5 separate regions of the Homo sapiens genome follow, and all the other regions are linked to region 5. Evidence: fine-mapped expression QTL. A gene starts in region 5. Each other region holds a variant in brackets. All regions are shown on one strand. Distances are from middle to middle.

Region 1 (5,105 bases), 94 kb after region 5:
AATGGTAGTTCTGCTTTTTGTTCTTTGAGGAATCACCATACTGCTTTCTACAGTGGTTGAACTAATTTAACACTCCCACCAACAGTGTATAAGTGTTTCCTTTTCTCTGCAACCTCACTAACGTCTGTTATTTTTTGACTTTTTAACCATAGTCATTCTGACTGGTGTGAGATGGTATCACATGTGGTTTTGATTGCATTTCTCTAGTGATCAGTGTTATTGAGCTTTTTATCATATGCTTGTTGGCTGCAGGTACGTCTTTTGAAGTGTCTGTTTATGTCCTTTGCCCACTTTTTAATGGGGTTGCTTTTCTTTTGTATATTTGTTTACATTTCTTATAGATGCTGGATATTGGACCTTTGTCCAATGCATAGTTTTCAAATATTTTCCCCCATTCTGTAGGTTGTCTGTTTACTCTGAAACCACTCAATCTTTAAAATTTCTTCTCCTGAGCATCGCTATACTCCTTCAAGTCAAATGAATTATTTCTTTATCTTTCATCCTATAGCTCTATGGCAGCACTCAATGTACTATATGGTGCCTCTATTCTGGTAGCATTTATTATATTCTATTACTATTATTTGCTTATATACAATCATGCATCACAAACTACAGGGATATGTTCTGAGAAATGTATCTTTAGGCAATTTCATTCTTCATTGTGTGGCCATCACAGAGCATACTTACACAAACCTTGATGGGATAGGCTACTGCACACCTAGGCTATATGGTATAGCCTATGGCTTCTGGGCTACAAACCTGTATGACATATTACTGTACTGAATACTGTAGGCAATTGTAACACAATGGTAACCATTTGTGTATCTAAACATAGAAAAGATACAGTAAAAATACTGTATAAAAGATAACAAACAGTACACCTGTTTAGGGCACTGACCATAAATGGAACTTGCAGCACTGGAACATGCTGTGGGTGATTTAGCGAGTGAGTAGTGAAGTGGATGAATGTGAAGGCCTAAAACACATTTTGTAGTCATATAAAAATATTTTCCTTATATCCTTATTCTAGAAAAGGTTTATTCTGTTTTTAAATTTTTAATTTTTTTTTTTTACTTTTTAAACTTTTTTGTTACAAACTAAGACACAAACATACACACAAGCCTAGGCCTACACAGTGTCAGGATCATCAGCTTCACTGTCTTCCACCTTTACATCTTGTCCGCTGGAAGGTCTTCAGGGACAATAACACACATGGAGCTGTCATCTCCTATGATAACAATGCCTTCTTCTGGAATAGCTCCTGAGGGACCTGCCTGAGGCTACTTTACAGTTATTTTGTTTAATAAGTAGAAAGAGTACACTCTAAAACGACAATGAAAGTATAGTAAATACATAAACCAGTAACATTTATTATCAAGTATTACATACTATACATATGTTATATTTGTATACAACTGCCAGTGCAGTAGGTTTGCTTTACACCAGCAACACCACAAACAAGTGAGAAATACATTGCACTATGATGTTACTGCAGCTAGGACTTTACTAGGTGATAGGAATTTTTCAGCTCCAGTATAATCTTATTGGACCATCATCATACATGCAGTATGATGACATAATGTTGACAGAAACAGTATATGGTACGTGACTGTAGCTGTATGTCTTCTTACTCTCCAAATCACTAGCAAACACATGCTGGTGGAATTTAAATTTTTGCAAAACAGCGATTGTTTCTTTTCCAACTTCATATTTCCAGTACTTGGTAGAGTGCATTGAGTACACAAAATAGTTATCCAAGAACCGTTTATTGAATGGAACAGCCACTACCACCACCACCAAAAAATTCTAGGCCCTTATTCCAAGAGTTAAATTCCTATGGTCTAAAGATCCATGGATTAACTTCAGGAGGTCCATGAACGTGGTGAAAATGTAAGCAAAAAGTTGTTTGTGTATATATTTGGGGGCTGGGCAGAAAATACATGGTTTTCTAAACAAATGTGTCAAAAGGTTCAATGATCCAAAAGGATAAAAACCTGCTATACTAGACCATGCTATCTTTGGAATGGGCTGAAAAAATAAGGTAATAATAGTATCATGATCATAATTACTGTCCTTACTTTTCCTTTGCTTCAGGAGAATTGAAGAACTGAATCAGAGCCTGGCTGCCCAGGAGAGGCTTGTAGAACAGCTATCTCGGGAGAAACAACAACTGCTACATCTGTTGGAGGAGCCAACTAGCATGGAAGTGCAGGTAAGGTTTGGTCAGTACATCCAGAAGCACTTGCTTCATGCTTTCATAAGCCCTGCTTTTTAATATCTAAGTGTATTTGTTATCTATTGTTGTGTAACAGATTACTACAAACTTAGCAGTTTAAAACACCTTATTTTTGTTATCTCACAGTTTCTGTGAGTCAAGAGTCCAGATATGGCTTAGCTGAGATCTGTTTGGAGTCTCATAAGTGTGAAATCAAGATGTAGACTGGGCTCTTTTCTCATCTGGAGGCATACCTAGGGAAGGATCGGCTTCTAAGCTCCTCAGGCTGTTGGAAGGATTTATTGCTGTGTA[G/A]CTGTAGAAGTTATGGCAGCTTCCTTCTTCATAGCCAGCAGCAGAAAGAGTCTGTTACTTTTCTCACTTCTAGACTTTCTTTTAAGGGGCTCATTAGGGCAGGCCCACCAGCATAATATCCCTTTTCGTTAACTTAAAATCAACTGATTAGCAGCCCTAATTACATCTATATGACCTCTTTACTTTTTTCATATAACATAGCATAACTATGCAGTGACATTTCATGACCTTTGCCATATTGGTTAGAAGTTACAGGTTCTACCCATCCTCAAGGGGTGAGGATAACACAAAGATGTGATGGCCAGTGGGTGAGAATTATAGGGACCACCTTAGAATTTGCCAGCCACATCAAGTGATTTATAATTATATAGAACATACAATGTTTTAGGGGTTTTTTTGAGGGTTAAGTTGTAAAATACTGTGCCGAAGTACACAAACTATGGGTTCAAATAAACAGTTATTGATCATCTATGAGCTAGGCATATTCTCTGTTTGTATATATTGGAGTATGAACCTTCCAGGTCCTTGAAAATGTGCTGGGTACTAGTTGAAATGGTGATTACTATTTCCGTACAAGTGTATCAGATAATGATAGAAATTTGCCTCCAAAAAAAAATTTTTTTTTTTGAGTTGGAGTCTCACTCTGTTGCCCAGGCTGAAGTGCAGTGGGATGATCTCGGCTAACTGCAACCTCTGCCTCAGCCTCCCGAGTAGCTGGGATTACAGGTGCATGCCACCACACCCAGCAATATTTGTATTTTTAGTAGAGATGGGGTTTCACCATGTTGGCCAGGCTGGTCTCGAACTCCTGACCTCAGGTGATCTGCCCGCCTTGGCCTCCCAAAGTGCTGGGATTACAGGCGTGAGCCACCACACCTGGCCATAATGTAGTTTTAATATTGAAAAGAGAACTCACTGTGGTAAAAAATAATTGCATTGATTTTCTGGGAAGTTACCTCGAAGGGAACTCCTCTCCTTCATTCAACTTTTAATTTACTAAAAAGATATTTTCTAAAAGAACTTTAGAATATACCTGCACCCAAACAACAAAAGCAATTACCTGGTATCCTTACATTCTTGCACTGGTCTTAGACTACTGATAAGACAAAATGTGGGTGGTTTACTTTACTGGTTCACATATGGAAAGGTTGGGGTCAAGATAAAAGAGCAATGATAAGAATTAGTTTAAACCACTGCTTCCCAACCTTTCCATTTCATGGCAAATGATAATATTTGTAAGGTATAGAGGTAAATGGATGAAGCTTCTCACTTGGAGGTGGCCAATTTGGGTGCTTAGGCCACTATGAGGGCAGGAAAAAATTACTATCTTGGCCACAATTACAAACTTCTTAGACTGCAGCTCCATTTTGGTTGGAAAGCATTGGTTAACAAACTCAAGAAATAATGTGTGAACATAATTTTACAAGTATGAATACAAATTGAAGTTCATAGGCTTTTTGCAAGATACATGTTGAAATATGTGGAAATTTTCTTAAGGGACTCTTGAAAATATTTCGTAATACATTTAATTAGAAAAAGCTCAACTGAGAATAAGAAGAATTGAATTTCCATCCTGATTATTTAAGCTGATAAGAACAGATACTACACTTGATCTTAGCCAAAAGGCCGAGAAGCGATTCCATCCTGATTATTTATTAGCTGTATGACTATGGATATGTCACTTCTCAGCTTCCATATACATAAAATGAGAAGATTAGCTCAAATAATCTCTATAGTTTCCTATAATGCTAACATTCTATTTTTATCTTATTTCAGAATTTTATTTCATTCTATTTTAGTTCAGAATTTACATGAATATTATTTCTTTCAAAATGTTCACCTTCTGAAATGAAATCACTTTTATTGCTCCTTTTGTATTTACAGGCACATAAATACTAAAATATTTTGTACATATACTTATTTTCATCATCTTTGGTAAGCACTGAAATGAATATATTTAGTTCAGTATTTTCAATGCTAATTAAGGAATTGGTTTGGTACCAGTTTTCAGAACAGACTTAAAGAACCAAAAGATTATAATTTCAAAGAGACTAAATTATTTATATTCTACTCTAAAAGGATGCTTAGAACAAGAATAAGTACAGCATCCAGGGGATAATATTGCATGACCATTGGGCAGAAGAAATGCATCAAATCATATAAACTGTACTAAATTGATATGCTTTTTAAACATTGCCTAATAAAAATTTATTGTTGTTATTACCCAATACGTTGTACATTTCAAAACCTGATACATTGCGCTGTTTGTTCTATAAGACAATGTTTCCTACCCTTTTTCATAGAAAATTCATTTTCATAGGAAATGAGTGTACATCTATGGTATTCTGAAATAAGTGCCCATGGCTGCTCATGGTTTGAGGCAATTGCTTATGGCCACCTCAGGACCCATGCACCACCCTGAGAGCTGAGGGGATCAGCATCTTTGCACAGTGGTGGACCATGCTGAGGTACACTGTGCTGGAATACCCAAGTTGGAAAGCTCTGCCACAGGAGGCCGCTGATAGTTGGTCCTCTCAAGTGTGGAGAATAGAAAGCCTCCCATAGCATATTTCCTTGT
Region 2 (5,105 bases), 180 kb after region 5:
GTGTGTACATATATATGTACATGTATATGTGTGCACATATATATGTACATGTATATGTGTGCACATATATACACCTATATATAGTATGTATATACACACAACATATATAAACACACTATATGTAGGTGTATATATATGTACACACACACACACATATATATAGAGAGAGAGAGAGAAAGAGAGAGAGAGAAATTGAAAAACTCAGTTATAATCCCTCGTCTAAGGTGCCCAACTCACATTCTCACATGCTACCAAAAGACCTCCTCCTTCTCTTTCATTTTTGAGAGTGAGGACTATGAAATCTCTTTCTTCCTCATCCCCTACCCTTCTCTAGCTCAGTGCTGACCTTCTACCTTGGAGTATCCTATACTTTAGCCTACAGGATTAAGGTTACTATGGAGATGAAATATGGACTTATCTTCATCTGCCAATCAAATGCTCTATAGGTGCATGTGTGTAACTTAAGCCGCAGGGAAGTTTCAGACTGGATGTGTGCCAGCTCAGTGCCATCCCCAGGCCACACACAGAAATGGTGACATCTCCATCACAGATGGGTTGCATGAGACTCAGATGATAGTGGGGTCCTTGGCAGAAAAGAATGTCACAGAGGAGGGTTCTGACAAGTGCTTGGAAATACTTGGGTCAATGTTACCAGACTCCTTCTCTCTCAGCTTACAGCCTGGATGCCTGTCACCAAATCCCTTTGAGCAGTGACCTGAGCCACCTGGTGGCAGAGGTACGAGCTCTGAGAGGGCAGCTGGAGCAGAGCATTCAGGGGAACAATTGTCTGCGACTGCAGCTGCAACAGCAGCTGGAGAGCGGTGCTGGCAAAGCCAGCCTCAGCCCCTCCTCCATTAACCAGAACTTCCCAGCCAGCACTGACCCTGGAAACAAGCAGCTGCTCCTCCAAGGTAGGAAGGAAAAGGGACTTAGAAAGCCCTTGGCCAGTGGGGAGATCACCAGGAAGTTCTGCGGCAGAAGGTGTAATCTGCCTGGTCCATGCTCCTTAGGGTCAGGTTGAAATCAGAGATGCTCTAGTCTAGCAACCTGAGTGAAAGCGTGGGATTTAGGTCAGACTGGGCTCCAGATTCTGAGTTTACCACTTAGAGGTCGTTTGATTTGGGCAAGGTGTCTAAAGTCTCAGAGGTTTAAGCTTTAGTTTCCTTATATTTAAGATGAGGATAATGATCATATGTACCTTATATGATTTTGAGCATTAAATGAAATCATTTACAAGTGCTTGGCACACTAAGAATTACTCAATAATTAGCAGCTGTATATGTTCATATCTTTTTCTTGGATTTGCTTGGTGCTTTAGTTTTAGCCAAGTGTTTTCACATATATAATTTCATCTGAAGTAAAGCAGGTTTTGCTATCTCTGTATTTCACATAAGAAAACTTAGGTCCTGAGATATTAACAGACAAGCGGGGATTTAGAGAAGTTATAGACAAAGCCAGGATCAGAACCAGATGTTGTGATTTTCAGTCTGTGTTCCTTCCAGCTCATTGTGCCCTGTCTCAGTATTGCCGACCTTCCCAGATTCTCTAGTCCCCCTTTCCCTCACAGGTGGGGAACTCAGTGTATGGTAAAATGTTCCTGCCCCTAAGGAAACAGGGCTCTGGGGAAGTCCTGGATGGTGGGTGATTTATTTCGGGTGGTCATCATTCGCTTTCTCTACCCCACCCCTTGCCTGCCTTTTCAGATAGGCGTGTTTGACCAGGTCCCCCTTCTCAATATCCTCTATCAATCTCACTTCTCCCAGTTTTCATTGAAATGTCAATGGTGTCCCCCTAGTCTCTTAAATCATTCAATTTCTACTTCCTCTGTCCTTTTCTCCTTTTGATACACCGTTTAGTACACCATCTCCACTCACCTCCATGGCCATACCTTCAATTTTATTCAAATCAGGAACCACTTCTGTTCAGTTTCTCTAAAGCTGAGCTTTCAAACTCTCCTGCCAGCTATTTCTGGGTCATGTTAATCTTTGTTTTTCTGTGGTTCTTGTAGATTCTCATTTATCTGACAGTAACCTTATTTGTCAAATGAAGGTGACAATAACATGATTATGCTGTTTTGGCAATTCAATAAAAAAACACATGTGGTCCACCAAGCAAACCGCCTGACCACCAGGCACTGCTCAGCTTACATTAGTTGGACACCTTGCCCTCCTCTGGGCTGCCCTGATGGTTGTGGTGTTCAGTTATGTCTCCAACTCTTCCTTCTAACCAGGCCTTCTTCTCTCACTGGCTTCCCATACAGCAGCCAAGACTCAGCCCCACTGATGCAGTCCCTGCCCCTCTTTCTCTAGCACCCCGGAGGCCTGAGCTGGAAAGCAGGCACTGGGCCACACTTGCCTGAGCAGGACCTTTTCTACCTTCTTTGTGATATTTTCCAATTCCTCCACCATAGGGTTGCTTTTTAGTCTCCAGCAAGACAATGTTAACCCACCAAGCCTTCTGTCTCCGTTCTTCTCATACAAGTCAATTTTTTTCAGTATTACCTCATCAGAATGATGACTAGAATGTTGAGTCCCCCATGAATCCATTCATTCCTTGATTCTTTGATTCTAGATTTTAATATGTACTATGTATATTTATACATATTACATTTAGTTACAGGGCATCATATTAGATACCACACACAAATTATACTTAAGACTCGGTTTATAAAAATACACCTAATAATTTTTCAAACTAGAAGTTACGTTCTCATGGAACACCCCTCAATTACAGGAATATCTTTTTGTTCTGAAGAATGGAAACATTCTGAACTCAGTGACTCATAGGCTTTTGATTTTGCTTTGGCTTGTGGGGTATGGATAATTCTGTAAGAGGAGAGTCCTGCCACCTTAGGTCTCAGTGGGGACAGCTAGGTGTGCATGTGCTTCATGTGCAGTGTGTTCCAGGGCTCCTGAAAACTGTGGTTGCCTTTACCCCCTAGATTCAGCTGTGTCCCCTCCAGTCCGGGATGTTGGTATGAATTCCCCAGCTCTGGTCTTCCCCAGCTCTGCTTCCTCTACTCCTGGCTCAGAAACGCCCATAATCAACAGAGCAAATGGTAAATATGGCAACTAAAGGGCCCAGGGACTGATGATGGAAAGTGATTAATGCAAACAACCTTTTGTTGTCTCTAAACATATTATCTGTATTTAGAGAGTTTTCTCTGCATGCCCCAAGGCCTTTAGCCCTACTCCCTG[C/T]ACCTTCTGTGGCTGCCTTTCTTGCCATTGTTCATCCTCCTGTAGTTTTCCTACTGCTGTTTTTGCTTCATTGCACCATAATCTCTCTATTCTTGAAAATGCTGTCTGTATCCAGCTTGACTTCCTTGTCTGTGTCTTCTCTACTCAGAAACTTATTATTTATTATGATTCATCCTATTTCATTTGCCAATAAGGAAAAAATTGTCTCCTGGCAAATTTATCATTAAGAGATAATGTAAGAAAGATTATAAAAATATAGAAGCCAGAAGATCTCTATGGACTTTGCCCCACCCTTGTACATTCCCAGGCTTCCTTTCTTGTTCCCGGCCTCGTCCTTTTCTTGTTCCCTACCTCTTTTTTAGTTGGAGCAAACTGAGGATATCATTATGAATAACAGAAGATTCTGTTGTGTTGTCATTTTCTTTTTCAGGCTTGGGTTTGGATACTTCTCCAGTAATGAAGACCCCTCCCAAGCTAGAGGGTGATGCTACTGATGGCTCCTTTGCCAATAAGCATGGCCGCCATGTCATTGGCCACATTGATGACTACAGTGCCCTAAGACAGCAGATTGCGGAGGGCAAGCTGCTGGTCAAAAAGATAGTGTCTCTTGTGAGATCAGCGTGCAGCTTCCCTGGCCTTGAAGCCCAAGGCACAGAGGTAATCACACCTGAAGCTTTAGGTGCACTCTTTCCCTGTGCCCTTTCTTCCTTTGATGTTAACTCCTTCTCCCACCATTTTTGTTTTTTTCATGCTTTGCATCTCTCAACAGCTGAGACTTCCTCTTCCATGTATAGCAGCCAGGCCCTTTCTTCTCTATCTCCTATTTTCACTGTGAGTTCTGCTCTGTTCCAGATGTAGCTGACTGGATATTTCCCCTCAGCCCCACAGAAACATGTGGCATTGCCTAGCAGCCTTTGGTAGCTTATTATCTACCATAGTCATGCAGGCACATGACCATCTGTGGGCAGAGTCAACTCAATGGGATGGATAGAAACTGAAGGATTTGCAGGTGTATGGCCCCCACATGTGGAAGGGGTGAGAAGCCTGGCAGCCATGTCATTTCCTTGTGCAGACTGCATAGAGGGAGGGAAGGCAGTCAGCAAAGCTTCTGAGAGCACCTTGCCAGTGAGAGAGACCAGGAACCTGTGGCTGTGCTGTCTGAGCTGCTGGAGACCCATGGATGCGTAGGGACAGCCCTGCCTCCACGGAGCCCCCACACTAGAGGGCAAGACACACACCCAAGTAGATAAGCACAGTAAGGGGCTACAGGCACAGTATGAGAAGTCATCCTCTGTGCTGTGAGAGCTCCAATACAAATGTGGTCATTTATCTCAGGCAAGGAAGGTAACAGGCTCATAGAGGACATAGCAAGGGGGGTGAGTTTTGAAAGCCTTGTGGGTTCTGCAGGTGGAGGAAGGCATTCCTGGTAAAGGGAGCAGCACCTTAGTTCTGAGAGCTGCAAATGGTTGTGTGAGGGCTTCACAGGTTCAAGCAGGCCCATGTTCTATGCCTCACTCACAAAGGAAGCTTGAGCCCATGCAGGGGGAAGAAAGTAATCTCTCCGCTCCTGTGGTGTTACCTTTCCCCAGGTGCTAGGCAGCAAAGGTATTCATGAGCTTCGGAGCAGCACCAGTGCCCTGCACCATGCCCTAGAGGAGTCAGCTTCCCTCCTCACCATGTTCTGGAGAGCGGCCCTGCCAAGCACCCACATCCCTGTGCTGCCTGGCAAAGTGGTAAGATGCCAGTGCCCTTTCTTGGTTCAAACCCAGTTCTCCTGCCCTCCAATACTGTTCTGTCTCCTCAATGTCACAGCTTTTCCAGAAAATCAGGAGCCACATAGTGAGTTGGGATAGACAGGAACTTAGAGGAGTGTCCCTGGAGGGACATCTCTGACCCATGGTGGCTGCT
Region 3 (5,105 bases), 490 kb before region 5:
AAGATAAAGGCAGCTTCAGAGATTTTGGCAAATTTTGTGAGAGAATTAAATGTCAGAAAAAGAACTTAGATTTCAGTGCAAAGTGGTCTATTTAAAAAGAAAGAGAAGGAAGGAAGGAAAAGGAGGGAAAGAGGGAGGGAGGGAACTTAGATGAAGACTAGAATATCTGGGAATGGGCTTAAACCATCAATCGTTTCCATTAATGACCACATGCTAACTAATTATAGCACAGAGATACCATACTGTAACATCAAGTACAGTTAGCATGGGGGTAAGAAAGTGTTCCCCAACCTCTCCGTTCTCCTCTGAAGACACATTTTCTTCTGAAGAACAGAGATATTGAATCTTGCCTTTGGGTAAGTTTGGGCATCCACATGAATGAGCTGGGGCACCCAACACCAGATTACACCAGGCCACGACCTTCCCTGCTGCCCCTTGCCTGCTTCAGAGGCTGCCCCGCTGCAGGTGGGGGCCTCAGCCCCAGGTCTGATGTTGTCCATTTGCTTTCTCACTGGGCTTCTTTCCTTGCACTGACTTCCACTCCCCAGGACTCAGTGAGTGGCCACATGGGAAAGACACAAACTGGCCATGCCCCTTTCTCTCTGACACCTCTTGATGCCTGCAGAGGTGAGCTCCAGACCCACTCCATGAGTAGTGACTTGAGACTTGCTCACAATGATGTCCCTGTCCAAGAGCAGGGACTGGCACTTAATAGCCACACATGAAAGCTCAGTGAAAGAAGGCATCCACCACAAGGTCCTGGAGGAAAAAGAATTCCACTATGGTCCATAACGTTTTAGTCCCAAAAGATCCCAGATTAGGAGATGTGAAAGGCTTTTGAAAGTGGCCATTCTTTTAAAGCATTATGCTGGCAGCTGCACTATGTTTCCCCATCCTGGACATGTCTGGAGGGCACTGTCTACAGCCATACCCACCTCCCCACCCAGGACAGTGCAGCAGCTTTAATTTGGGGGATGCCAGTGGGCAAGGAAGGGGTGAACCATGAAAGCTGAACAGGAGAAAGCAGGTGGAAGAGGGGCAACAGGGTGGAAATAGAGAAAATAAAGGTGGGTAGAGAATGGGGGGACTCAGGGGGAGAGAGAGAGAGAGGGAGAGAGAGATCTAGCCACTAAGGAAGGAAAAAGTCCAGAAGAGAACACTTGTCTGCTTCAGTAAAATAATTTACACCTAACCAGGTGCAAGGGCACTGCAGGTCGTGGGTGGCATGCCCTGGTCATGCTGTGATGTTTAGGGGCCATGACATCTACCCTTTGAATCCAAATCATCAAATAGAGAGGGAACTCTGTCCCTATCTAGCTGGCAATGCCTTGCGATTTTACCTTTTAGATCTGGCAGCTCTCCACATCTGCTCACTTTGTGGGAGGCAGCTCTTGACGCACCAAATCAGGATGATTCAAAAATCAGAGCCTTGGAGACTTCACTGGAAGGCTTGGACAGTGGGAGGTGGTGGCATCCGGAGGGTGGAGTCCAAGAGGTAGCAGCGCTGAGGCTCCACACACCCTCAGGAGGATGGTAAGGGGCAATCTCTTGGTGAGCACCTAACTTCCCCAGGAACCTCTGCCTAGGTGGAAATGGGCCCCACGCCTAGCTTTTCTCTGGACAGGCCCTAGCCAGGGATCCAGGGTACCAGTTGAGTCCTAGGCAATGCAAATGCCTGTGTGCTGACCTTGTGGTGACTGGAAGGAAGCACCATGATCCTTCCACTTGGAACTGGACTTGCAAAGACGATGGCTCCTACTGCTTTCAATTTCCTTGGACTTTCGCAATCAGATTTAGCCTTTTGGAATGTGAACATGACTCTTCTGGGTCACCCCAGGTATGGGGTGGCCTTGGATCTGCTGGTCCTCCCCAGGCCTCAAGGACTGGCTGATATTCATCATCTCGGTTGGTGTCACCGCACTCACAATCCCCAGCAAAGATCCCCCAAAGTGTCCTGACTAGAAACATATTCCTCAACTTCCTCTCAGCTCGTGGTAGCCATTCTTCTGTTAGTGTAGGCTGCGTGTGGGAGGCTGGTGGTGGGTAGGGTGGGAGCCTAGAGAAGGAAGAGGAACGGTAGCCAAAAAGGAGCAGAGAAGGAGGAGGAGGCAGGAAGTATAGAAAGCTGGAGGGAGCTGGGGAAAATGGGTGTGGGGGTAGTGTGAGGAAGACAGGGAGCAGGAGAGAGAGGGGACTGGAAACAGAAGGAGAGGAGGAGGAGAAAGAGGAGGAGAAGAAGGCAGAATAAGAAGAGCAGAAATTCCAGCATATCCCAAATCTTGTTCCAGAAATGGTTATCAGTGCCCCATGGATAAAGGGAAAAGGAAATTTGCAAAGAAAAAGAAAGAAACCCCAGCGGGTAGAGGGTCTCGGCAGAATGTTTATTTCAGAGCAGGAAACTCTGGCAACCCAGGCAGAACTGTTGGCTTTAGTGGAGGCCTAAATATAGCTCTTCTCTGTTCCTAATCCTGAAAGGTGCTTAATCTCATTCTCTGAGATAGAAACCTAAAGAGAAGGGCAGAGAGAGGTAAGTCTGGGG[C/T]GACTCCTCCTATTGTAGATTAAAGGTACTCAAGTCCTGTGTGACAAAGAGAAAAAAATACCTGAAAAGGAAATTCTGGTGACTATGGAGGCTGAGAATTCACTTGTCAAATGCTCATAACTGAGAGTATTCTCAACAGCTGGTTCCATGGGTTAATGGTGAGCACCCTGGACTCTGAATCAAGCGATCCGAGTTCAAATCTCGGTGGTACCTTGGTGTCTGCTGGCCTTTTACTCTGGAGCCAGAAGCCACTTTGGGAAGCAAACTCCACCCTCAAAGACAGAGTGAAAGGGATGTGGTTTACATTTGCCCTTCGTACCAAGTCCTGGGTTAAAGAAGAGAAAGGAAGGTTTGGGTCCCGGGGAAGGAAGCTCTGCTGCTGCAAATCCCCTAGTCCCTCCTGCTCCGGCCTCGCAATGCGTCCCCTGCAATGTCCCTCCTCCTCTCCCGTGTCCCTCCTGCTCCGGCCTCGCAATGCGTCCCCTACGATGTCCCTCCTCCTCTCCCTTTTCCTCCTCAGTGGTCTGGGTCCCAGAAACCGGCTTCTTGCAGTGGCCTGCTCCACAGGGAAATTGCCCAAACATCCCATCGGAGTCACCAATCCTGGTCCCAGTCCTGGGCGAGCCTCCCGGCCCCCTGCAATCGGAGGCCCGGACCCCGCAGCCAGCGTCCCAGCAACCGAACAAGTCCCCATCCCCTCTCAGGGCGACCCTGGGCCTCGGGGTGATAGGTTTCCTACACTAAAAGGGCTGCGGCCCCTCAGTGCTAGACCCCGAGATTCCTTTCACTCGGGAAATCTCGTAATCGCATCCATTGTCTTTTTGGTAAGTAAACGGTGACGTGAGAAATTTTGATGGGGTTAGCTCAGTCATTGGTGATTATGTCTCAGTTTAGGGTAGATGGTTTGAGACCTAACTTAGAAGTAACACTGTTTTATTCGGATGGCCCATCCTCTTCCGAATGTTAATTTACTCTGTTCTTCATATTCAGATTTCCATGCCTAATTTCTAGCTCCTACGTCTCTATTGCGGGACCTAAAAGTCGCTGTTTCACTAAGCTTTGGAACCCGACTCCAGGAAATCTCATTCTTTCGTCCCAAAATTTCAACCGTAAAGAGAAATCCGCGCGGCGGCCTCTTCAAGCGCCCGGGCCGGGAGCGCGGGTTCTGACCTTCGGTCGCCGGGCCGGTCTCCCGCAGCACCACGGGTAAGAGGAGCCTGAGCAGCTCGGAGGGATGAGTGCGGGACGGTGGGGGCTCCCCCTCTTCCTGCCAGTACCTTGCCCCAAGGAGAAGATGCCTTAGGACGCGACAGATGAAAAATCTTTTCTTCTGCTTGGCGGAACACTTTGGATGCGGCTTATGGTGGGTCTTGAGAGCAAGCTAAGATGTCCCGCCAGACGCTCAGGACCATCGCTCTGATTTTCATATTTTGCAAATATGAAAATTTTCAGCGGTTACGAAGGACTGAAAAACACCGCAGTCTTTGAGGGGCTCAGTTTGGAGGGCGTGCGGAGGTGTGGGGTGGGAGACGGGAGAGAGGTGCCTTGTTGGCTCCTTGGAGTGGACTGATAGGAAGGAAAACACACAAATTCCATTTCCCCTTGCAGGCTGGACTGCAGGGCCTAGGATGGAAAACTGGGCAGTCAAAGAGCAACAATATGTAGAGGTTGACTGCATGCATTGAAAATTGTTATCCCTCACACCTGTAATCCCGCATTTTGGGAGGCCGAGGCAGTCGGATCACGAGGTCGGGAGATGATCATCTTGGCCAACATGGTGAAACCCCGTCTCTACTAAAATACAAAAATTAGCCGGGCGTCTTGGCGCGTGCCTGTAATCCCAGCTACTCGGGAGGCTGAGACAAGGCAATCGTTTGAACCTGGGAGGCGGAGGTTGCAGTGAGCTGAAGCTGAGATGGCGCCACTGCACTCCAGCCTGGCGACAGAACAAGACTCCGTCGCAAAAAAAAAAAGAAAAGAAAAGAAAGAAGGAAAAAAGGAAGGAAGGAAGAAGGAAGGAAGGAAGAAAACAAAATTGTTATCCCTAGAAAAAAGTGTAGGGGGGACCAGAACACTGCTGTTGTTGCTGTTCACCACCAGCTTTAGAGCATATGTAACTGGTAACTGTACAGTGCATCAAAAATCCTTCCTGTTTACAACCAATTATCACAACTAGCTACAGATTTCTTTGTTCCTTCTCCACTCCCACTGCTTCACTTGACTAAACTTAAAGGAAAAAAAATTGTTTTTACATATGATATTGTTTAAATTGATCCTCAGCCCGTCCTCCTCAAGTAGCTGGGACCACAGGTGTACAACACGGTGCCTAGCTAATTTTGTAGAGACAGGGGTTTTGCCATGTTGGCCAGGCTGGTCTCGAACTCCTGGACTCAAGTGATCTGCCTGCCTGGGCCTCCCAAATTGCTGGGATTACGTGCTGGCCTCCATGCCCAGCCATCATTTGTATTTTGAATTTAAATATTTTATAGTCATAAGTATCACTCTTCAAAGATTCTGAGTTTTGTAGCATGTATATGGTGAGGTTCAGGACACACTACTCCAAAAT
Region 4 (5,105 bases), 150 kb after region 5:
CAGGAGCCAACTGTGGTGGGTAGTGCTGTCTCTAAACATTCCTAGAAAAACCTATTTCTCGTTTTCTTTGAAGAATAAAAGAGACCATGAGCAGGAAGAATTTCTTGACATTACAGAATTATGGCATCACAAAATAGGTGCAGTGGTCATATCTCCTGGTCTGCCTGGGAGTCCTAATTTACATGTGCCTTGGTTAGCCTAAGGATAGAAGACTGTAGTTGTATTGAATAATTACCCTTTTGGAGAAGTAGAAACTCTTTCCAGAATTTTAATGGGATTTCATACCCCCAAAAGTATTTTAGATTATGATTTGGCCTTTTCAAGTAACTTAAAACAGCTACTTTCTGAAACATGTGAGCTGGAAAGCCCTAAGGCTACTTAAGAGATGTTGCAATTTAAAGACAAAGATACACCATAAAGGGGTTTGACTGCAGACAGCAGTTTTCTACCACTTCTGTTCCACGATCAGAATCTGTCTAGATAGAGAATTTTATTTCTTAGCAGAAACTATGGAGGACTATATGGAATCTTAATAGTTTTCTTATGATCCTGAAGGGAATGTGTGCAGGTGAAATTGTAGTTTGATAGGAGGCCTCTTTTCCTTGATTCTCTCCATAACATTACAGCACCATAACATTAAAGTCAGCAATAGTTGGTTCATGACGTGAAAATGTGAGCGTTCTTGTAATGAACGCATGGCAGTGTACCTGGGAGTCAGAGTGAAATTGGGCTGAGAGTATTAGACACAAGGGCCCGGTACCGAAGGAAAGAACACTTGGCACTGCCAACTTATTCATGCTTAAAGTTTTAGTTCTTCAGATCACCTTTTAAAATTAATAAAATATGATCTCTTGCTATGTTCTAAGTAACTATATGGAAAAACATCACTCCTTTTCTGTTTATCCCATATTAGTGGCTTAAAGGAAGATAATGACTACAGAGTAGAATTGGGGGGAAATGGTCTTGACTCCACCCAGTTTGGACTCATTACTAAAGAACATGTCATGAGCCAGGTGTGGTGGCATGCACCTGTAGTCACAGTTACTTGGAGGCTGAGGTGGGAAGATCCCTTGAGCCCAGCAGTTCAAGACCAACCTGGGCAACATAATGAGACCTCATCTGTAAAGCAAAATAAAACAAAAAAAGAGGTCATGAAGTTCCCCCTAAGGCTTATTTGTGCATGTTGGAGTTTTAAGACAGTTATCATTTAATGATGATTAGTCCTTTTTGTAAGGCACCTATTCCAAAGAGTTCAGCCAAAGAGTTGTCACTCCTTACCTTTTCAATGTCCTGTGAGGCAGAGAGCAAAGAGTGTCATTTCAAGCCTCCTGCTGGGGAAACAAGTATTCAGAAATGAAGAAGTGCAGGTAGAATCAGTCAAGATCATTCAGATAGTAACATCAAGTATAAAACTTCCTTCTGCTGATGCTATTTAGGTTCTGTGGCCTTCAACTTTCTCAGTCTTCAACTTATAAGCCCATGGACTACTTCAGTTTACTTACAATAACAATAATAATATTGTTTAAGGATGGTATTTATTGAGTACACACTGTGTACCAAGCACTGTTCTAAGCACTTCAAAATCAGCAAACCCTTTAAAGTTCACAACAGTATGGAGTGGGTAACACTCTTAACCCTAATTATTAAATGAAGAAACTTAGTTATGGAAAGGTTATGACTTGCCTGAAGTGACATAACTAACAATAAAAGCACAATTCAAATCAAGACAGTCTATCTCCATAGTTCTTGTTCTTAATTATTATGCCATACTCAATTTAAAAAGTTCTACAAAAGTATGAATTTTTGCTTCAGTGATAAGAATACCTTATATTTGCATAACGCTTACATTTTCACCCAAGGATTTTATGGTCTTATGTTTTAGAGGTTTATTTTTGTGTACTTTGTAGAATTAGATAGCTGATAGAAAATACTTTTCTAAATAAGGGACATCTTGGTATCACCTCCATTTTGTATTGTTCAGAGCCTAGAAACTTCCAAGAACCACAAGTTGAGAACTTTTATTGAAGCCTCAAATAAAAGTTTTTTATAAAATTGCCAGTCTAACATGTAAAACTTAATCTCGAAGAAGCAAGTTAAATGAACAGATTCTTAGCTCCCAGAGAATCTAAAGGCGGCAGGCTATTTTATATTTTATCAAAAAATAAGCAGACGAGTCATCAATATAAAATCATAGGTACCTTAAATTAGAAATTCAAAATATTCCAAGTTAGTTCTGAAGACAGTGTTTCGTTGTGCAGTAAAAGTTTAGAAAAGGGTATCACACAAGAGAAGTTCTCTCATTTATTTAAAAAAATGGAAAATGGTAAAAGATGTCTAATGTCTTGTATGGACCTTGTATGAGATAACTTACTCTTTTATTCCCATATTTTCTATAAATTTTTTAGCTTTACCCCTCAAACATGGGAGAAAAAGTTTCAGCATTTTAATTCAAATTGGTAAAAGGCTGAGCAACCCTTAAAGCTGCCATAATGGAAGAAGACTGTGAGCTAGCTTAAAAAAGAGAGAATGAAGGGGAAGAAACAAAACCCCTGTGTGGCAGAGTGTCGAGATGAGATGAGCATTTATTTGTCTCCGTCGAATTCCTTATGAAGCCAGAACCATAGCATCCTGCTCTTAAGTGAAATAAGATGGAGCATTATCCAAGAATGCAGACGTGGCACCAGAAAGGCTGCCAAAGATAAGTGGAGGGCAGAAAGTGTCAGATAAAAACCTTCAAGACCAGTGATAGTCACCCTTTCCAATTCTCGCTTCTGGAACCTGGCAGGAATGGTCCTGGGATGTGGGCCCAGCCTGACTCCACAACCCAGCAACAATGGTAGGGGATGAGGATCCTGACCTCATAGAGCTGTGCTTTCTTCAACTACAGGATCCTTCTCTAGCCCCATGTTCAAAAGAGAAACAATGTGAACAGTCTGTTTT[T/A]TGTCACTGAGTGAGACAATTCATTTCCTTTGCTGGAAAAACATAAAAGATTGTGATCGCTACTGTTGTACAGGGAAAGATTTTCCAAAGTAAGCATAACATGATGTGGGTGTCCTAGGTAAATTAGTATCCTGGTTTTCAGTAGGTTTTTAAAGCAGCCAAAGATTAGGGAATGTGTCCATACACCTCTACTCAGCTAGTATCCTGAGTGAGATGGTTTCTGGGGTTGGTTTGAATGAGTAAGTATTGGAAATAACTCTTGTACACTGTCTGCCACAGACCTCTAAAGATGCTAAGTGGTAGAGGTGGTAGAGGCTTCACTGAACAGGACCCTTCCTTGATCCAAAGTTAACATAAAGTTCATGGTGTAGATGAGGAAACCTAAGCTGTTATCACAGCATACTTACTACCTCTTAGCACTTCCATGAGATCAGCCTGGGCCATTGCAAATATATAGATGTGAACTGCCCCCTCAAACATGGGAGAAAAAGTTTCAGCATTTTAATTCAAATTGGTAAAAGGCTGAGCAACCCTTAAAGCTGCCATAATGGAAGAAGACTGTGAGCTAGCTTAAAAAAGAGAGAATGAAGGGGAAGAAACAAAACCCCTGTGTGGCAGTGTCGAGATGAGATGAGCATTTATTTGTCTCCGTCGAATTCCTTACGGAGATAAGGTAAGCCCCTTATCTGTATTGGGTAGTGAATGCTCATGATTCAAGCAGAGCCTTTCATGCCTGGATGTCTGAACTCAACAGAAGGTTCTTTGGTCTTGGAGGAAGAAGCAAAGATAAAGATCAGATTTGTCACCAGAAGGAAAAGTGAGTGGCTTCTGTCTAAGAGTCCAGAGTCTTGACTTACTGGCGCAGCTCTAGTGAGGGCTAGTTGTGTAACCTTGGACTCACCACGTAATCTCTTAGAGGTCCAGGTTAATCAGTGGTCAGAAGTGGAGTTGTAACTGGTTGGTTGCCGAGGCTAGGATCAGAACAAGATTTCAAGATTCTTAAGTTGGGGAGGTTCTATAAGACACAGTGAGTGTCACAGTAAATTTTCTTTGACAAATTAACCATAATAAATTTCTACACTTCCTGAAAAATACAGTATATAAAACATAGCTCTTGGTCTTAAAATGTATGAACAGTCTTAATTTTAATCAATATAAGGAGGAAGACACACCCTAGATTTGTGCTGTCCAATAGGGTAGCCACTAGCCACATGCAGTCATTTAAATATAAGTAAATTTAAATAAAATTTAAGATTCAATGCTTTGAAATGTGAGCCATACTACCCACATTTCAAAGCTCAATAGCCATATATGACTGTGTCCACTGTACTGGGCAACACTGGCACAGAACATTGCTGTCATTGCAGAAAGTCCTCTTGGTCAGTGCTGCCTTAGACCTTTGCCCATACCACAAACTGCAGCTACTTGTACCTTAGAGCAAGGTGTAGATGTTTGGGCCCTAGAGTGGCTGTGTCCATCTCTGGAGAATGAAAGGATGGGTTAAATCCCACGGGGATAAAGCAGTGCAAGAAACCCTTCAGGCAAAGGGTGTCTGCATAGAATAAGAGTTTGAGAGAGGTGAGGAGGAAGGGAGGTTAGAGGAAGAAATTAGGGAACAACTGAATCCTTTGGTGTCTTGAATCTTGACTAGACCTGAACCTTACTAGGACACAGGACCCCCAGAGGGAAGTTCCTCAGAGAGATTGTCACCCTATGCACAACTGATCCCAACAATAGATACCTCTGAGAGATTCAGGGCAGCTCTAATCTCCAGGCACTCAGTGGTGGGGAAAGGGTTAAGCATGTTGGACTCATATTATGGAAGAGAAAGTTTTTATGTAGCCAGGCAGTGGGGAATAATTCAGGCTTTCTTGACATTCGAGTGGGGTAACCAGTGCATCCGACAGTCGGCTCCTTAGAAATGGGTCTGTGCAGGCAAAGTCAGCTTATGTTGTGAGGCTCAGGCTTGAGTATGAGTAAGAAAGTGTCTGTGATACAAAAAGTTCTATTTTTCTTTCCAGCCCTGCTGGCTAGGGAGAATTTCTGCCCCATGTATATGGAGAAAGGAAGAAATCAGAGTCAGCGGGCAAAAAGAGTATAATTTAACCTGCTGTCTGGAAGCCATCTGTGAAGGGAATCACTTTTCTTTTCTGGACTTGTTTCCA
Region 5 (5,105 bases):
CTATAGCAAAATAGCTTAGACTGGGTAATTTGTAAATAATAGAAATTTATTTCTCACAGTTCTGAAGGCTGGACCAAGATCAAGGTGCTGGCAGATTCAGTGTCTGGAAGAGCTTGCTCTCTGCTCCCAAGATGGCTCCTTGTTGCCACAGATGCTGTGTCCTCACATGGCTGGAGGGACAGAGGACAAAAGGGACCAGAGCAATCCTTTCAACCTCTTTTTTAAGAGCACTAATCCCATTCATGAGAGTGGAGTGTTCATGCCTTATCACTTCCTAAGACATATTCCTAAAAGGCCCCACCCTGTAGTACTATAACACTCGGTGTTAAGTACCAATGTATGAATTTTGAAGGCATACATACATTCAACCATAGCATAATTCAAAAAAGGAGAATGATAAAGGCAGAAAGCTCTTCATTAAGGCATTATTTATAACAGTCTAATATCAGAAACAGCATAACTATGCAATAGTAGAATATTTTAAGTAATCTATGGTCCTACTAATATTATAAAATATTGTACACTCATTAGAATAATAACTATGAACTTTCCCTAAAAACATGGACAAATATTTACTAAGTGAAAGAAGGAGAATATAAACATATACCTAAGCTGTAATCGTAATTATGTAAATAGATATTTAATATATATAGATAATGACTAAAGGGAATTTGGAGAAATTTAAACATTTGTGCTGTAGCAGTGGTTATATGGGTGAATATTTTTCTTCTGAAATCTAACGCAAAAAAATTGTTCTTTTGACAATAAGTATAATTTTTAAAACAACAAGGAAATTTCTCTTCTCAAGAATATACCCATGTGTGTAAGAAAGAGTTGGTGTTTGGATTAAAAGATGCATTTTTTAAAGAGTGGGAAAAAAATGCAACACATTTTTAATATTGAAGATCCCTGGGTATTCTGAGTAATCTATATAACTTTCTGTATTTTTCAAATGTTTTTACAATGAATGTGCTATAAACTTTTGAAAAAAGTTATTTTAAAAATACATGAACGTATTTTCTAGCGTCACTTCTGAGACCCCACAGCTCACCTAGTTAGTGCTATCATTTCTTGAATCCAGTGAGCTGCCTGTAGACAGAGTTCCTCTCCACAACTCGGTAGCCCATAATTTGATTTGAGACAAAGCTAAATATAGCCCCAACTTTGGTATGAAGGATGGGAATCTGACTCTCCCTGCCTTTTCTTCCCCCCCATCAGAGGCAACAGGATATTCTTTTCAAGACAGGTGGCCTGTGAGCCTTGTCTAAGATCAAACTGGACCTTGAAATTTTTCCTGGTAACATTTTGAGCTCTGGAGCAGTGTGGTCCTACCAATAAATCAAGTGTTGGAGGAGTCTAGACTAGGGGCTTTTTAGACAGTTCTGCTAAACCTTCAAATGTTTTGTTATCCTCCCCTCCCCACCCCTACTTTGTACTAGTATGTAGGGGAACCAATCCAAGAGATAACAGACAGATGACAGGTTCCCCCAAGAACACAGACTCCCCACAGTCTCACCAATACCCAGGCATGCCAGGTTCTTCCTGAGTTAAATGCCTAGGAGGCCTGAAAGAATAAATTCATCCTGGAGAAGTCTTGTGGGTCGTAGCTTTAGAAATTCAGGGAACATATCTCTGGGGCCACCCAATGGAGAACACAGCCTGTATCAGAACCTTAGCAGAGACTTTGGGCCTTTTGGGGTCTCAAATTTATCATCTCTGAAACAAGTACAACGAAATTAACATTGCCACATGTGGGCACTATAAAGCCTTTTTCAGATAAAAAAAAAGGTCAGTGATAGTGCTAATAATAACAGTGATTATGTCATTTAATAAAACGGTCTTATTTGAAAGCTAAAAAGGAGCTTCAGGGTGGCAAGCACTCTAATTATAGTATGTCTGCCTTGTTTAAATCTTGATACATAAGTACATGGTACAGGGCCTGAGGCAATGCCATCTCCAAAGAGGCCTTTTCCATGATCTTAAAACAGTCACAAGGGAGTGTCGAGGTCCTGATGGCTACTGTCTTGAGGCTTTTCTAGTGTTCTGGGAGTCAGGAAGCTTCTCCCTCCTTGAAGCTATTGGTAGAGCCCAGTTGCTGGCGAAACTGAAAAACGAGGAGGTAGAATACCCTAAAACAGGAGATGTCTGGGATACAGGCAGCTAATAGGGCTGTAAGGTTTTGTTGGGATGCTTCCCTTCCTGATGAAGGGTCCTGTCCCTGGATTAATGGTGAAACTGGCATGTCACATCTCTAGGAAGACAACATCGTGTTCCATGACCACGTAGGGTATACATCTGCATTCAGCCGGGATTGCTCCTAAACCTTCCTAGACTCCATCTCTGGCTCTGGGGTTACCTGTGGGTGGGGCGATGCAGACACACAAGAAAACCTCCTCTACAAATTCTTCCTGTAGTTGGTTGATTGTATTCTAAGACCTTCGTTGGGATGGGCGAGGGACGGGGCTTGGTACCGCGTCCTCTAAGCTCTCTGCCCTCTGCCGTCATCATTCATCTGAGCCAGCGAGAGAGGGGTCGGGGAGACGCGAGGGTGGTTCAGGGGGCGTGTAACCTGGGCCGATTCTGCCCCAGCACACTGGTTGTCGGGAGCCCCGCCTCCGCTCGCGGTTGACAGCTCAGCTGGTGCCGAGCAACTCGTGCCAGCCAGTCGTGTCTCAGCCTGGAGAGTGCGCGCACCGCGGCCCGGGCAGCCGCTGGCTCCAGCTCACGAAACAGCCCCGGGCGCCGCGCCGCTCTGAGTCCAGCCTCCTACTGAGAACAGTCCCTCCCTTGTGCGGGTCGCACGGCTAGCCGCAGGTTCGGCCACGTCAAATCCATTTTCTAAAAAAGCAGGGAGCAGAGCTCTCTCTTCGCCGCCGACGCAGAAAGGAGCTGGGGAGGAAAAAGCTGCTGCCTTTTGCGCTGGAGATTCGTGGGCAAGGCTTCTCATTTTCCCAGGCTGCTTCCCCTCCCGGGTGAGGAGCGTCCTGAGACTAAGGAAAGAGCCTGGAAAATGGAGCAGACCTGGACGAGGTAGGTGGGCTGTTTCCTTCTCGCCGCGCTCCAGACTTGGTGGTCCTCCTCCCTCCCCTCCCCCAGCGCCCTTAGGGAGAGAGAGGTCGCCCCTCACCACCAGGGTCCCGTGACAGCTTCCCTTTTCTGTAGCCTCGCCCTGCCTGGTTCCCAGCCCACCTCTCTTGGTCATTTTCACATGTTCTGTTTTACGGGGTTTCCCTTGCTTAATGACTCTCCCCTCCACCGAGTCCTGATGTTAAAAATACCCAGGGAGGCCGCCTGGAACTTTCTGTAGAAATGGTTCTCTGTCGTTTCCTTGTTCGTGTGGCTAGAGGGATTCCAGTAGGTCTTCTTGAGAGATATGTTTGATGTCAGATGCTTTGAACAATATCAGGTTTATTCTCACCCTGCCACGTTTTCCTTCTCAGCCTCATCTGTCACTACTCACACAAAGGCAAAGGGACTGAGTGAGCAGAGCCCAGCAGCACTCATCTCCACAACCTCCAGTTGGAGCCCACTTGGGGGAGGAATGGAGAAGGAAAGAGATCAGGGCACCACACTGCTCAGGCTTTATTGAGGCCAGGCAACAGTTGGCTTTTAGGTCAGATTTTGGAGATGGCCTGTGAAACTGCGTTTTCTTCCAGTCCTTCCCCCAGACACACTTTAAAATGAAGCCCCATTCAAGGAAAGGGTAAGGATAAGAGACCATGTATTGAGACAAAGACTTCGTTTCTGTTTTTTAGTGGGTGGGAGGGTAGGGAGACTATTCCAGCGGTGTCTCTATAACAGATACGCTTCCATCTGTGGGATTTAGCTTTGGAGAATTGGGGTGGGGCCAAATGAGCGCTCTGACTCCTGAGAGAGTGAAGACGGTACAAACACAGAAGGTAAATTTGGGGCTTATGCAAAAGACTTGGGTGCTTTTAGTTGATTGCTAAGCTCAACAGGAGTGAATGGTATAATGTGAATATTAAAGAAGGAGCAAATTGAAGCTTAGGGTTTGTTGACAGAAGAAGTAGGCTGTCTAGATTCTGTCTAGATCAAAAGTGATGATTTTACTTTTGGCTCCTTTCTGCTCCTCTTGGGCCTCTCCGAGAGGGCTGTGCTTAGTTCTGGGCATCATTAGATAAAATAAGTACAATCAAGAGACAGGAGGGAACTCAAAGCCATGCCTTGAGGGATGGCCAAAGGAAGGACCTGGGACTCCTGAGTCCGGAGAAATGACGACTGGGAGTGGGGAGGATGTGGTAGCTTCCTTCAAATTTCCGAAGAGCTATTGGTGGTAGAGGGATTGAATCACATTAGAATCTCTTAGGAGGACAGAACAACCGATGCAAGCGAGTTGTTGGGAGGCGAGTTATGGCTCAGTGTAAAGAAAAAGCTTTCTGGCCAGGTGCAGTGGCTCATGCCTGTAATCCCAGCACTTTGGGAGGCTGAGGCAGGCGGATCACCTGAGGTCGGGAGTTCGAGACCAGCCTGACCAACATGGAGAAACCCCATCTCTACTAAAATACAAAATTAGCCGGGCGTGGTCGCACGTGCCTGTAATCCCAGCTACTCCGGAGGCTGAGGCAGGAGAATCGCTTGAACCCGGGAGGAGAAGTTTGTGGTGAGCCGAGATCAAGCCATTGCACTCCAGCCTGGGCAACAAAAGCGAAACTCCGCCTCAAAAAAAAAAAAAAAAAAAAAAAAAAAAAAGACCAGGCGAGGTGGCTCACGCCTGTAATTGCAGTACTTTGGGAGGCTGAGGGGGGCGGATTACGAGGTCAGGAGATTGAGACCATCCTGGCTAACACAGTGAAGCCCCGTCTCTACTAAAAACACAAAAAAAATTAGCCGGGCGTGGTGGCGGGCGCCTGTAGTACCAGCTACTTGGGAGGCTGAGGTAGGAGAATGGCGTGAACCCGGGAAGCGGAGCTTGCAGTGAGCCGAGATCGCGCCACTGCACTCCAGCCTGGGCGACAGAGCGAGACTCCGTCTCAAAAAAAAATTAAAAAAAAGCTTTCTAACAAGTTAGCTGCCTGGGCAGTATGGGCAGTAAAGAGATTGTTGACCCTGGAGTTACTCAGGCAAAGGCTAGATGACCACTTGAT

Evidence for each region.
Region 1: its variant is fine-mapped to the expression of PDE4DIP in whole blood (TOPMed, PIP above 0.99).
Region 2: its variant is fine-mapped to the expression of PDE4DIP in whole blood (TOPMed, PIP above 0.99).
Region 3: its variant is fine-mapped to the expression of PDE4DIP in whole blood (INTERVAL, PIP 0.98).
Region 4: its variant is fine-mapped to the expression of PDE4DIP in whole blood (Lepik 2017, PIP 0.95).

The regions. Positions count from the first base shown.
Region 1 is chr1:148,935,653-148,940,757 of GRCh38, forward strand. It overlaps PDE4DIP (phosphodiesterase 4D interacting protein), which reads left to right. Exons shown (of 47, transcript NM_001395426.1): 8 at 2,095-2,212. It also overlaps the pseudogene RNU2-38P. Among named protein-coding and RNA genes, the nearest start is that of PDE4DIP, 94 kb to the left of the region's middle. The variant G/A (reference allele first, on the strand shown) is at 2,528.
Region 2 is chr1:149,023,774-149,028,878 of GRCh38, forward strand. It overlaps PDE4DIP (phosphodiesterase 4D interacting protein), which reads left to right. Exons shown (of 47, transcript NM_001395426.1): 41 at 672-911; 42 at 2,942-3,058; 43 at 3,628-3,854; 44 at 4,787-4,930. Among named protein-coding and RNA genes, the nearest start is that of NBPF9, 77 kb to the right of the region's middle. The variant C/T (reference allele first, on the strand shown) is at 3,198.
Region 3 is chr1:148,350,881-148,355,985 of GRCh38, forward strand. It overlaps the pseudogene TRQ-CTG9-1. Among named protein-coding and RNA genes, the nearest start is that of RNVU1-1, 9.1 kb to the right of the region's middle. RefSeq lists enhancers at 2,645-3,455, 3,456-4,265 and a silencer at 2,777-2,876. The variant C/T (reference allele first, on the strand shown) is at 2,540.
Region 4 is chr1:148,986,779-148,991,883 of GRCh38, forward strand. The region is part of intron 24 of PDE4DIP (phosphodiesterase 4D interacting protein); the gene reads left to right. Among named protein-coding and RNA genes, the nearest start is that of NBPF9, 110 kb to the right of the region's middle. RefSeq lists an enhancer at 5,062-5,105. The variant T/A (reference allele first, on the strand shown) is at 2,941.
Region 5 is chr1:148,841,765-148,846,869 of GRCh38, forward strand. It overlaps PDE4DIP (phosphodiesterase 4D interacting protein), which reads left to right and starts at 2,664. Exons shown (of 47, transcript NM_001395426.1): 1 at 2,664-3,030. The coding sequence starts at 3,011. RefSeq lists enhancers at 2,113-2,834, 2,835-3,557.